Linked DNA regions of Homo sapiens. The protein of the gene in region 1 interacts with the protein of each later gene in a pairwise test. Each region holds a gene or a part of one and is shown in the gene's direction. Other genes may lie near its edges.

Evidence for each region. Proteins that work in one complex are often made in the same cells at the same time.
Region 2: the proteins of YTHDF1 (region 1) and CPSF7 interact in a two-hybrid assay, tested with the Homo sapiens proteins (one large-scale study listed by BioGRID).
Region 3: the proteins of YTHDF1 (region 1) and MOV10 interact in a two-hybrid assay, tested with the Homo sapiens proteins (one large-scale study listed by BioGRID).
Region 4: the proteins of YTHDF1 (region 1) and QKI interact in a two-hybrid assay, tested with the Homo sapiens proteins (one large-scale study listed by BioGRID).

What each region holds. Positions count from the first base shown.
Region 1 is NC_000020.11:63,209,632-63,213,131, reverse strand, and holds part of YTHDF1 (YTH domain-containing family protein 1), read left to right. Parts: intron 1-3,500.
Region 2 is NC_000011.10:61,409,476-61,412,975, reverse strand, and holds part of CPSF7 (cleavage and polyadenylation specificity factor subunit 7), read left to right. Parts: intron 1-1,038; coding exon 1,039-1,207; intron 1,208-1,870; coding exon 1,871-2,033; 3' UTR 2,034-2,038; exon of another isoform or gene 2,039-2,395; intron 2,396-3,500.
Region 3 is NC_000001.11:112,684,659-112,688,158, forward strand, and holds part of MOV10 (helicase MOV-10), read left to right. Parts: intron 1-2,307; exon of another isoform or gene 2,308-2,448; intron 2,449-3,500.
Region 4 is NC_000006.12:163,529,718-163,533,217, forward strand, and holds part of QKI (KH domain-containing RNA-binding protein QKI), read left to right. Parts: intron 1-3,500. UniProt on the Homo sapiens protein: RNA reader protein, which recognizes and binds specific RNAs, thereby regulating RNA metabolic processes, such as pre-mRNA splicing, circular RNA (circRNA) formation, mRNA export, mRNA stability and/or translation.

The sequences.
Region 1 (3,500 bases):
CACCACTGACTGGCCTGTGTCCATGGCTTGCCTTCTCTTGCCTCAATTTCCTTTTCTGTAGAAGAGAGAGAGTAGTAACTGTTTGTAGAATTGTTGGGAGGATGACATCAGATGGTGCACATAAAGCGCTGAGACAGTACCTGATACAGCAGGGCCCAGTGAGTCATAGCTGCCCTGTTTTCTTAGGTAATTCAGGCTTTCTCTGCCTTGGCACTGTGGACATTTTGCACGGGAACATTCTGTTTTGGGGGCTGTCCTGTGCATTGTTGGATGTTTAGCAGCCTCCCTGGCTTCCCACCCACTAGATGCCATTAGCAACTCCTTCTCCCCATCCCCAGTTGTAGCAAGCAAAACTGTCTTGGTGGATGTTTTTTGGGGGATACAGTTGCCCTGGTTAAAATCTACTGGGAGCTGCTCTCTCTCCTCTGTGCTGCTGTTGCAGCAAAACTCCCAAGAGAAGCGGTATCTGTTTATGTCTAAGAGTCCAACTCGGGAATCAGACTTCCCCTGCCTCACTTTCCTACCTCCAGGCCGTTGGCTTGGATGAGGGGCTGCACCTCTGTGAGCTCCTCACTTTGGTGAGCAGGCCTCATGGGGCAGCACAAAGCAGATGCTCTGAGTGCTCCATTTCGTGTGCTGTGATTCACATTCCTTCCTCCGCCACTCCAAGTAGCCCTCAGCTACTGGGCATGTTTACTTTAAAGTAAAACCAGGCTTCACCTCTTCTCTGTGAAGGAATAAAACTAGTCTGCCCTTTTCTGAGGTGTCTTAGAACTTCTTAGAATGTTCCTTCATCCCCCTCCCTCCTACTGCACTTGGCGAATCAAGCAGCTTAGAGACCAAGAAACCTTGTACAGGTGGAGCCTCGGCAGCGCTGCCCCGCGCTCCGACCCTGCTTCTGTTTCTTGTCTCTTGGTTGCCTTCTGAGAATCTGCCCTTCCTCTGGGCAGAACTGACTTGACTTTAGTGATGGGCCTTTGGATAGAGGTAATGGCAGGAAGTTAACTAATTTTTTGAATTTCTTGTTTTCTAGTGTGTTCTTATTATTTTAGTACTTTAATGGTATTATGTACTGAATTTTAGCCAATAAAGGGGGAGGGAGGTTGCATCAGTACACTTAAAAGTGTGTGTGTGTGTGTGTGTGTGTGTGTGTGTGTGTGTGTGTGTGTGTATTTTGGAGACAGGGTCCTGCTGTTACCCAAGCTAGAGTTCAGGGGCATGATTATAGCTCACTGTAGCCTCAAATTCCTGGGCTTAAGCAATCCTCCTGCCTCAGCCTCCTGAATAGCTGGGACTACAGGCATGCACCACTACACCTGGTGATTGATTGATTGGTTGGTTGTAGACACAGGGTCTCTTTGTGTTGCTCAGGCTAGTCTTGAACTTCTGGGCTCAAGTGATCTTCCTGCTTTGGCCTCCCAAAGTGCTAGGATTACAGGTATGAGCCACTGTGCCCAGCCAAAAATATTTTTATAAAGTCGGAGCTTTTGTGTTGTTTGGGAGGATTTCTTTACAAATCGATTATTTTTATGTCAGTGGGTGTCTTAGCTCCATATGTAGAGTATACAGTATGGTTTTATAACTTTTGATTTACACAGACATACCTTTGGAGCCATGGCCACAGTTAAGATAGTGGGCATATCAATAGCTCTGGGTCCTTTTTTGTTGGAGACAGGGTCTCACTCCATTGCCCAGGCTGGAGTGCATGATGTGATCATGGCTCACTGCAGCCTCGACTTCCCAGGCTCAGGTGATTCTCCCACCTCAACCTCCCAAGTAGCTAGGACTACAGGCATGTGCCACCACGCCCAGCTAATTTTTAAATTTTTAGTAGACATGAAATATTGCTGTGTTGCCCAGGCTGGTCTTGAACTCATGGGCTCAAGCAATCCACACGCATCAGCCTCCCAAAGTGCTAGGATTATAGGCATGAGCCACTAGTGCCCAACCTAACCCTGGGTACTTAAAAGAGAAAAATCTAGATATGGTTTGTAGTAGCCAGTTGGAGGCTACCGTGTTTTGTGTGAAACTGTCATACTTAGAATGGTTTAGAAAGTCTTAGGAGAATGCCTGCCTGTTAGGTTGGTTTAACTTGTAATGGGCTGTGAGGGGTTGTTGCCGTGTGGTGGGGGTCCTTCCCTCAGAGAGGCCTCACCCGCCTTGCTGTGCTTCTGGTGCTAGAGTTTCAGTCCTAGTTGCCCCTGAGGCGCTTGCGACTGTAGCCGCTCAGTATCTGTCTTCTAGTCTGTGACTTGAATGGGAGTTGGGGGAGCAGAGGAACTGGGAGTGAAGGGCTCTGGGTTGGGCTTGATTGTTGTGATTTTCTCTCTTTTTTTGTTTTTTGAGATGGAGTTTCGCTCTTGTTGCCCAGGATGGAGTGCAGTGGCGCGATCTCAGCTCACTGCAGCCTCCACCTCCCTGGCTCAAGTGATTCTCCTGCCTCAGCCTCCCGAGTAGCTGGGATTACAGGCACGCGCCACCACGCCTGGCTAATTTTTTTTGGTATTTTTAGTAGGGACGGGGTTTCTCCATGTTGGTCAGGCTGGTCTCGAACTCCCGACCTCTGGTGATCCCCCTGCCTCAGCCTCCCACAGTGCTGGGATTACAAGCATGAGCCACAGTGCCCCGCCGATTCTCTCTTTTGAGGCTTTTCCTGCTCGGGGACTTCTGGTTTCCCAGTTCTCTGTTGTTTTCTGAAAGGAAAGACTGTGAAATGACCCAGAACAGTTCCTACTCAGAGTTTAGAAGACACTGTCTTGGCATGATGCCTGAGTTGGGAATAGATGCCGCTGGCCCCCCAGGCTTCCTGCACACTCCCTGACCAACAGACTGAGTGTGTTTGCTGTGATCCCACTGACAGAAATTACCAAGGCCATCTGGGCATGCCTGTACCTGTGCTGCCGGATGCAGTTTGGTCAGCAACAGACCACAATATGATAGTGGTCCCATAAGACTATGATGGTGCTGAAAAATTCCTGGCACCTGGTGACGTTGGAGCTACCATGTTGAGGGCAGTGTATTACTCGTGTCTGTGGTGCTGCAGTAGGTGTGACCAAACCTACTGCCCCAGTCATACCAGAGTATACACCTACAGTTACGTACAGTACCATACAGTACGTAATAATTGATGATAAACGACTGTTACTACTTTGTGTATTTGCTATACTTTTAAGAGCATATTCTGCCTACTTACTAGAAACAAAGTCAACTGTAAAGCAGCCTCAGGCAGGTTCTTCAGGAGGAATCCAGAAGAAGGCAATTGGTGTGACAGGAGATGACAGCTCCATGTGTGTTGTTGCCCCTGAATACCTTCCAGTGGGGCAAGATGTGGAGGTGGAAGATCCAGACCCTGTGTAGGCCTAGGCTAATATGTGTTTTTTGTGTCTTTTTGGGTTTTTGGTTTTTTTGTTTTGTTTTGTTTTGAGGCAGGGTCTCTCCCTCACCTGGGCGGAAGTGCAGTCATGACTCATTGCAGCCTTGACCTCCTGGGCCCAAGTGAT
Region 2 (3,500 bases), on another chromosome or scaffold:
TCAAAAACAAAATAGTCCTCTATACAAGGACCATCAACCAATAAGACCACCTTTTATAGTTTATATTCCTCCAGAATTTTTTCTATGCATATGACAATTTATATAATTTTTATTGTTTTTACAAAAACAGGATATGGTTTTGAAACTTGCTTGTTTCAATTAGTATATTCTGGACACCTATTATATCAACATATAACATAACATTTATTGATCCTTACTGTGTGCCTGGCACTGTGCTAAGGGCTTTACATGGATTACTTTGTTTACATACAGGTTTACCTCCTGCTTTTTTAATTGTTAATAGTACATTAATAATGTAATATTCTGTAGAACCAATGTTCCTTTATATAGCCAGACCCTATTGAAGATAATATAACAAACAACACTGGCCGGGCGCAGTGGCTCATGCCTGTAATCCCAGCACTTTGGGAGGCCAAGGCGGGCGGATCACAGGGTCAGGAGATCAAGACCATCCTGGCTAACACGGTGAAACTCCGTCTCTATTAATAATACAAAACATTAGCTGGGTGTGGTGGCAGGCGCCTGTAGTCCCAGCTACTCAGGAGGCTGAGGCAGGAGGATGGCGTGAACCTGGGAGGCGGAGCTTGCAGTGAGCCGAGATCACGGCCACTGCACTCCAGCCTGGGCAACAGAGTGAGACTGTCTCAAAAAAAAAAAAAATGAAAAAAAATAAACACTAAAACACTGTTAAACATACACACTTGTGAACAGAAGTAGAAAATTTTTAATAGAATTGCTGGCTCAAAAAATATGCACATTGTTTATTTTAATAGATGTCAAATAGCCCCTGGACAACAGTGTGTCAGTTTGTTCATCTGACAACATCTGTTAAATTCCGAACTGCTGGAATATAGGTGTCATCCAGTTTTACACTTGCAACATCTGCCTTGTCTCTTTTACCGCGGTTGTTTGGGACGGCTAGCTACTCTTGGTTTGTGTCTGCCTGAGTTCTCCTTTTGGTCCAGTTAGTTTACCATCTCTCCTCACCCTTGGCCTTTCTCCTTCATCCTTTATCAGGGGATTACAGTGACGCAATTGAGACGCTGCTCACAGCCATTGCGGTTATCAAACAGTCCCGGGTTGCCAATGATGAGCGTTGCCGTGTCCTCATCTCCTCTCTTAAGGACTGTCTTCATGGCATCGAAGCCAAGTCCTACAGTGTGGGTGCCAGTGGGAGCTCTTCCAGGTGAGTTGGTGATTGTGTCCTCACCTACCAGCCCCAAGCAGCACTCTTCCAGGGATAGGGAGTGGGGACAAATGGAGCCCAGGGAATCTGGGAAAGACCTGGCCGAAAGTCTGGACGTTAGCCTTCATGTCTTTTTGGGGAAGAAACTAATCAGATGCTTTCATTAATAAGTGTTGTAACATCTGGAATCTGGTGGGTGAGGCAGTGGGCTCATGTAGGAAAAAATACAGACAGATATTTTTAAGAACATGGGTTTTGGAGCCCTACAAGCTTGGATTGGAATCCCAGTTCTGCTGCTAACTATCTGTATGACCTTCTTGTGTATGGAAGTTAGTCAACTTTCCAAGCCTTATTTTTCTCATTTTCTAAAAAAGGGACACTGATAGTATTTATCTTACAGACCTGTTGTAAAGATTAGGTCAGATAATCCATACAAAATTATTAGCACTACACCTGATAAATTAGTTCTCAACAGATAAATTTACCTGTTAATCATCTTCCCAAAAAAGAGTAGTCCTCAAAGAGCTAAAATCCTCAGACAGCAGGCCCATGATAGAGTAATAGAGGAATAGTTTAGGCAAATATCAGAAGACACCAAAACACCACATTCTTGGAAAGAAAGTGGTAGGCCTTCTGAGTGAGGCTGAAGGATCTTTCTAATAGGAAAAGACATCGCTCCCGGGAAAGGTCACCTAGCCGGTCCCGGGAGAGCAGCAGGAGGCACCGGGATCTGCTTCATAATGAAGATCGGCATGATGATTATTTCCAAGAAAGGAACCGGGAGCATGAGAGACACCGGGATAGAGAACGGGACCGGCACCACTGAGAAAGGTGGGGAGAAGCCCCGTTCCTGGCTGCTGGGGGATTTTTTATTAAAAAAAGATTTATAGTGAAGAATTCTCTCTCTTTAAAGCAAAAGTAAATGCAGCAAGGGTAGGGGGAACTTCTGATTTACATAACTGGAATTTCAGGGCAGATTTTCTGCACATTTATGGGGAGTCTTACCCTGAGATTCAGCTGTTTCTGCTTGTTTCTTGACTGCCTTAACCTGGTATCTGAGTGAGAGTATGGTGTCTGCATTCAGGTACCAATTTGAATCCCAGTTTCTCCACTAATAATTGGCCATATTACTTTCTGTTCCACAGTTTCATTTGTAAATGAAGATAATAAAAGCAACTGTCCCAGTGACTTGCTAAGTTTTAGTGAGAGAGTCCATGTAGACCATTTAGCACTCATGGTACCTGTCACATAGTAAGTTCTCAATAATTAATAGCCATTGTTATTATCATTATGAACTTTCAATTTAAATTAGGAAAATTGACTAAGAATAGTAAAGCCATTGCCACTTAGTTTTCAAGCTGCAACATTAATGATTTTAAGAATTAGGCTTGGCATGATGGCTCACACCTATGATCCCAGCACTTTGGGAGGCCAAGATGGGAGGATTGTTTGAGCCAGGAGTTCGAGACCAGCCTGGGCAACATAGGGAGACCCTGTCTCTACAAAAAATACAAAAATTAGCCAAGTGTGGTGGTCCCAGCTACTTAGGAGGTGGAGGTGGGAGGGTTGCTTGAGCCTAGGAGGTCGAGGCTGCAGTGATCTGTGATTGCACCACTGCACTCTGGCCTGAGCGACAGTGAGACCTTGTCTGAAAAAAGGTAGGGAGGAGGGGCGGGTGGGTGCCTCATGCCTGTAATCCCATCACTTCAGTAATTTGGGAGGCAGAGGCTAGAGGATCACTTAAGCAGGAGTTTGAGACCAGCCTGAGCAACATAGTGAAACCCTATCTTTTTTTTTTTGAGACAGAGCCTCACTTTGCCGCCCACGCTGGAGTATAGTGGCATGATCTCAGCTCACTGCAACCCCCACTTCCCGGGTTCAAGCTATTCTGCCTCAGCCTCCCCAGCAGCTGGGGCTACAGGCGCGCGTCACCACGCCCGCTAATTTTTCTGTTTTTAGTAGAGGCGGGGCTTTACCATACTGGCCAGGTTGGCCTTGAACTCCTGACTTCGTGATCAGCCCACCTTGGCCTCCCAAAGTGCTAGGATTACAGGCGTGAGCCACCATGCCTGGCCGAGACCCCATCTCTTTAAAAAAAAAAAAACGGTTTATTTAAAAGATTTTGAAAATTAATATGCTTTAGTCAGAGAGGAGAAAGCTGATCTGAAAAATTATCTTTAACAGGTTTAGAGGCTTTGTGGTGGATAATTAACTTCAACGGAAGGGTTTTTTGCTTTTGGAAAAGACTTAGTGACAAGGTTGTTTATTTTGTTGTTGTGTTTTTTGTTTTGTT
Region 3 (3,500 bases), on another chromosome or scaffold:
ACCAGCAATTTATGAGTTCACTTTTCCACATACCCATTATAGTAATATATGCTAGAACTATGTTCATTTTTGTCAGTCTAATGGGAATAAAATAATATCTCATTTATACTTTAATTTGCATTTCTCTACATTTGGAGCAGTTTTTCATACTCTTTTGGCCATCTGGATCTGTTCTTTTAATTGAATATTCGATTTTTCTGTTGAATTGTTCATCTTGTCAATTTGTAAGAAAATTTATATATTATAAAAATTAGCCCTTTGCCTGTCATCTGCATTATGAGTATTTATCTGGTATTTATCTGTTGAATGTGTTTATATTACCTTTTGCTAGAGAAAATATTTTTTAGTAGTCAGAAATGTTTGTTTTCTTTTTTAGAGACAGGGTTACCCAAGCTCTGTTAACCAAGCTGGAGTGCAGTGGCGTAATCACAGCTCACTGCAGCCTTGACCTCCTGGGCTCAAGTGATCCTTCTGCCTCAGCCTCCTGAGTAGCTGGGACTACAGGTGTGCACCACCATGCCTGGCTTTTTTTTTTTTTTTTTTTCACTATTGCCCAGGCTGGTCTCAAACTCCTGGGCTCAAGCAGTCCTACCACCTCAGCTTCCCAAAGTGTTGGGATTACAGGCATGAGCCACCACACTTGACCTAGTTTTATTTTATAGCTGCTGGTTTCCAGTCTTGGTTAGAAAGTTTTTCTTAGAAATATAGGGGATTACGGCCGGGCACGGTGGCTCACACCTGTAATCCCAGCACTTTGGGAGGCCGAGGCGGGCAGATCAGGAGGTCAAGAGATTGAGACCATCCTGGCTAACATGGTGAAATTCTGTCTCTACTAAAAATAGAAAAATTAGCTGGGTGTGGTGGCGTGCACCTGTAGTCCCAGCTACTTAGGAGGCTGAGGCAGGAGACTCACTTGAACCCGGGAGGCAGAGGTTGCAGTGAGCCAAGATCGTGCCACTGCCCTCCAGCCTGGTGATAGAGCAAGATTCCGTCTCAATAAAATAAAATAAAATAAAATAAAATAAAATATAAAATAAAATAAATATAGAGGATTACATGTATAATACAAGGATTGGGGCTTTTTTCCGACAAGAATATAATAAGTTTGTGATTTTTTAAAAATAATTTTTGTATGACTGTTACCTAGACCAATGTTAGGTGAATTTGGGTAGTGATGAGAGACATAGAGAATAATTTGAGAAATATTTAGGGATAGCATCTGCAGTAGAATTTGGAAATTTTACAGAGATGAGTTCTGTCTGCCCTTGTGCCATGCAGGTTTTCAAAAATAGGAGGTTTCATGTTAAAATTTTGATTTTGTCTTTTCTTGAAAGTCAGATCTGGCCATCCGGGGCCTGCATTCCCTACTGGCCCCGTTCGAAGATAAGCAGTTACCTGCTTCAGACAGGGCATGCACTTCCCAGTTTGTTCAGTCCCCACAAAGCCCTCTTTCTGCCCAGCATTGATCTGGGAGCCTGGAGCCACTTTTCTTGGAGGTTGCACTTTGTTTTCTTAGCGTTGTGAGGGATATGCATGCAGTATTCTTACACTAGTGACTCTCAAAAATGGACTGAACAGGTGTCTGAAAGGGCTGCAAGGATCAAGATACCTGTGAAGCATAGCTGCTGTAGGCATTAGCTTGTGCCTCGATCCATGGGACTTTGATGGACTCTAAGAAGCCCTTGTGAAAGTTACTGATGATCTCCTGATTTCAGTCCCTGTATTACTGGACCCCTCAGCAGCTTTTGATCCTGATACCTGATTTTGAGACTTTGCTGATTCTCCTTTCTCTCTTGAGGGTTTCTTGTTTTCCCTTCCTCCCCGGGTTGTGCTAGTAGCTGCTCTCAACTACTCACACTCCCTGGGGAGATTCCTACACTTCCTTGATTATAACCACTACCTGGGGACTCCCTAATACTAGGCTGTAACCTTGACTTTGGCCTGAGTTCTCAGCTTCTGACTCGTGGAGCTGGTTGCCTCTGGACCACAGGAATCTCAAACGCATCATATCCAAATCCAAATGTCATGGTCAGTCCCTCCAACCCCTCCTCCTCTTGTCTTACATCCTATCTCAGAGATAGTCCTAGAAGCCAGGCCATTGATTTGGGGATCCTAGACTCATCCCTCTTCCCAGCCTTCATTCCCCCTTCTGTCAGTCACCAAATTTCTGCTAATTTTACATTCTAAGTATTAGCGAATCTTGCCGCTCTTCTTCTGTATCTCTACCCACTGCCTTGCTCAGGCCTTTGTTATCTTTTAACTGGACAATTGCAAGGGCCTTCTTCTAACTGGTCTCCCTGCCTACAGTCTTGCCTCCAGCAAATCCATCCTCCAATCCTGATGCCAGAGTGATCTGAAATGCAAATATGATCTTGCCACTCCCCTGCTTAAAACCCACCAACCGCAGTGGTTCTGTAACCACAGTGTAGCCTCTGACGTGGGCTGAAAGTAAGTTGTTACTACTCCTACTACTACTGCTACTATTAGTACTACTATTTCTACTAATATAAATACTAACAATAGTAGCTAACATTTACTGAGCATTTTCTATTATGCTTTTGAATGATTTATTACCTTTTTAAAACAAATCATAGCCAATTCAATGTTTTCCAAATTGTACCAGTCTCATTTGCTTGGGGTGAAGGAGAGGGGCAGAGTTACAGGCAGCAGGCACCTGAAAAATACTCATAACCATAAATGATCTTATCACATACCCTAGTGAGTGACCATGATGATTTAGCCTGAAGAGTTAAATAGGAATTACCATAGTCCTCATAAACAAAGATTTGCTTTTAAGGGAGGGTGTCAGTCATCTAGATCTTGAATATGTCCCTGAAGTATGTGGCACGTGGGAATGTCCTCAGGCTCCTGGGTATCAGTAGAGCGGGGAAAACGACTGCAGACATGCAGAGTCAAGTCCAGGCTTGGCCTGTTGTGCAAAACTGTCCATGATCTGGTCCCTGCCCACCTCTGCTCCTCCTGCCACTCCCTTCCTTGTGCATTTCACTCTAGCACAATGAAACTGTATGTGATACTAATCATGGCTCACCCTTACTGAGGTCTCCTATGTGCCAAGCACTGTGCTAAGTGGTTCTCTGCCGTGTCAAAATCTCATGTAAACCTCACAGCAACCCTACGAGGTAAGTCTCGCTTTCCTCCAATTTTATAGAGGAGGAAAGCGAGGCTCTGAGAGGTGAGGTCAACTGAGCTGACCTGGCTAGAGTTGTCAAGTGGGCCGCCCCCCTCTGCCCCTCCCTGCACATGTTCTTGCGTACCTCTCACATCTGCTTACACTTCGCGCTCCCTCTTGTGCCCAGGTAATGCCCACTCATCCTCAGGACTCAGTTCTTATGCTGCCTCCTGGGAAGGCCTTCATGGACACCTCCTCTGCCCCCAGACTGGGCTCAGTGTCCCTCTGTGGCACTGAGCCCCTCTGTGGCCGATGAGCTGCCCTCCAAGCACCACGCTGGAATGTATATGTTCAGTCTGTGTGCTCCTCG
Region 4 (3,500 bases), on another chromosome or scaffold:
TAGATGTGAATGGGTGCATGTGCAGCAGCCAGTCTCTGTCAAAGCACAAGTAAGCCATGACTGTGTTTCAGAGATTTCCTACAAAGCCTCAAATTCTAAAAATCCACGCTGATTCAGAAAATTCATTCAGGATGAGTAATAGCTGAGACATTAATTGTGGACAGATTTGCAGCAGGGAGGTATGAACCCCAGTTTGGACATGTGGAGTTCAGACTGCTTTAGAGATTGAAGTATACATTTCTAGTTGGCAGTTGAATTTGGAGGTCTAGAAATCAGGGGGCAGTACTGTGCTGGAAAATGTAAATTTGGGATTATATTGATGCAAAACTGTGTTCTTCTATGTTGCTGAAGATTTAGTAGCACATATATTATGAAATGATATTGCAAATGGTAACTGTAAAACAGACATTATAGTAGTCATGAGCTATTTTTTTCCACATCAGTATCTCAGCTATTAACCCCTGAAAGATTGTTTGAAACATAATTGTAAAAAGAAACGAATGCCTCGTAGAACACAGTTTCTAATAAATACAGCATTTTTGGTGTGCGTCCATATCATCATCCCTCCTGTCTGCTTATTTCAACCTTTTCTTTGTCCTGATGTATTTAAGTGAGAAAATGGGTTTTGTGAGTGGATTCTTACTATGGATATTTTAAGTTCAGAAGTAACCATCCTATAATTGCATCTATCCTTAATGACTAAAAGAGGACCTTTTGGGGTGTGTTTTATTGATTTCTCTATAAAATTTGCCAATCCCAGATTGCCTTTATAATCTGCTTAAGAAACAGAATGAGATCACAGGGAGAAATAGTATTTGTATTAAATAATTACTAAGCTGCAAACTCACTGAAGGAATTTAACTCTTCTTGAGCTGGAATGGACTACAGTAGAATGAATATGGCTTCATGGCTTCTGCGTAGCATGACCTCAAAGCCTTTTTTTGTGTGACATTTGATATGCACATGGATGAAAGATTTTCTGAGGCCTGATGTGGAAAACGGGTTGGTCGGTCTCTCTCTTCACACTGCACCCCCTCCAAAACACTAAAAGAGGTGCTTTTAGTGTTTACTTTCAATTGCTACATTGTTTGATTTTGAAGTGTCCGCTTCATTTATTCCTTGTGGTGAAAACTCAGTGGGTCCTTTTCATCTGGAACCTCAGATCCCTCAGTTTTGCGAAAAATATATAACATTGATGATTTTTCTCCCTCTGCTTTCTTTTTCTTTATATTGGTAGTTGGACATCGTCATTTCAGTTTCTGAACCTCTTGGACTAGTCCTCTAATATTATACAGTTCTGCACCATTTTTTTTTATCTCTGTCTTTTGCTACTTGGAGAGTTCCTCAGTTTGTCTTCCAACCTTCTATCAAATTTTTCATCTTTGCTCTCATGTTTTTAGTTGCAGGAGTTTCTATTTGTATTCAAAATTTTTAAATAGAGCATTCTTGTTTCAGCATTGTAGCGTCTTTTATTAACTCTCTGAAGGGTCAGTTGTTCAAGTCTCCTGTCCCCAAGATGTGGGCCTGGGTTCCCTTGCTCTGCATTTGGAGCAGGGGAGATGGCCGGCCAGCCCAGCTGTCAGAGTGGAAGTTACCCTGTCAACTGTTCTCCTAATGCAGTTTGAGCAAGTGTTTTACTTCCTTTCAGAATCAGTTTCTGGTCTACTGCTGGGAATTAGGGAGTGCTTGATAGCTAGCCATTTGTGGACAGGGGATATGGGAATTGAACTGCTTTTTAATGAGAGTTCATCTAGTCCTGCAATCTCAGCCCCACCCTCACCCCTGTTTTCACTGCTGCCCATTTCCTCAGTATTTTTGGGGTGGATTGCAAGGAAATAAGTTTCTTTCTTAACTAGAGTCAGGTAAATTTTAAGTTAACCATCTGCTTTCTAGATTCTTAATTTTTAAATGGTTTCCTTTCCCATTTTCTTACTTCTTACGAGTTTGGACATTTTATTTATTTATTTATAATAGACACAGGGTCTGACTGTTCCCCAGGCTGGCCTTGAACTCCTGGGCTCAAGCAGTCTTCCTGCCTCGGCCCCCCCAAAGTGCTGGGATTACAGGCATGAGCCACTGTGCCCGGCTGAGTTTGTACATTTTAAACTCTGCAGTGTTGTAGAAGAATTTTTGGTGGGAGTGTAAGTACACCATTCCATTAATTTCTCCATCTTTGAAAATTTTTGCTCCTTCAATTGTTTTTAAAAGTGTAAGCAAAAATGTTGATTTTGAAGCAAACAGGGTAGATGTAGCTTTCTCCTATTTTTATATTTTTAACTATCATTTAAGTTGTTGAATTAGTAAGAGTACGCATTGGCCAAGTGTTTTACACCTTAAAAATGTATTCTTGCAATAAAGCAAAATGGCAAATAATACTGCAACTTTGTTTCTATCATGAAAATAATTATTCCTTTTAAATTCTCTGGCTTTTCTCCATGTATAGAGGTTTCTGCGGCAAGTCAAATTTTAGTTTTTATTCTTAAGCTTTTCTCAAAAATATTTGATTATAAATGTTCCTCAGTTTTCATTGTATTAGTATCTATATGCATTAGTGTTTGACACACACACATAGAGCTTTTAATGTCTTTGTCTATTTATAATAACATCTGTATCACTTCTAGATTGGTTTGAGTGAATTGATTGGGGGGGAGGTGGTCTCATGTATTGCATTTTTCTTGCTGCTTTGCATGCCCGTTAATTTCTAATTGTATGCCAGACTTTTACCTTGTTGGGTGGATATTTTTATATTCCTATAAATATCTTTGAGCTTTGTCCTGGGACACAGTTAAGTTAGTTGGAAATAATTTAAGGCATTTGGTCTTACTTTTAAAATGTATTTAGTTGTACTGGAACAATGCTTAGATTAGGTTTAGTTTTTTCCTACCACTGAGGCAAGACCTTTCTGTGTCCCTTACCCGTGGGGAATCCTTCAAGTCTTTCAGTCTTGTTCTTTTCTAGAGCCAGGCACTTTGACCTGGAATCCTTTTGGGTGGTTCCTTCCCTGGCCTCTGGAATTTTCTCTCAAGTATGCAACGATCAGGGTTCAGCTGAATATTTGAGTGGCAGCTCTCCCAGGACTCTCTGAGCTTTGGCTGCCTCGGTTTCCCTGGACTCTTGCTTAGTCTCCTCATGGAGTTGTCTGGAGACTCTCAAGCCAGTGAGTGGGGGCAGTTATAGGCTCACCTCAGTTGTTCCCAACTCTGTGTCATTTGTCCTTAGTTGTCTGATGTCCAGTGGCTTGAAACTTGTTGATACGTTTTGCCAGTTTTTTGGTTGTTTCAGCAGGAAGGTGAATCTGGTTCCTGTTACTATATCTTGCCTGGAAACAGAAGTCCCTCATATATATGCGTTTAGTCAAATAGGTGCACTTTTAGGCCCACCAAATAATACCAGACTAGTAGCTTTTGTAGGTCTCTCTCCAAAAAAAAAAAGATAAATAAAAAATACAAATTTTGGTGAGAAAATACTGTTAGCATTCTTGAACATAACAATTGAAATCT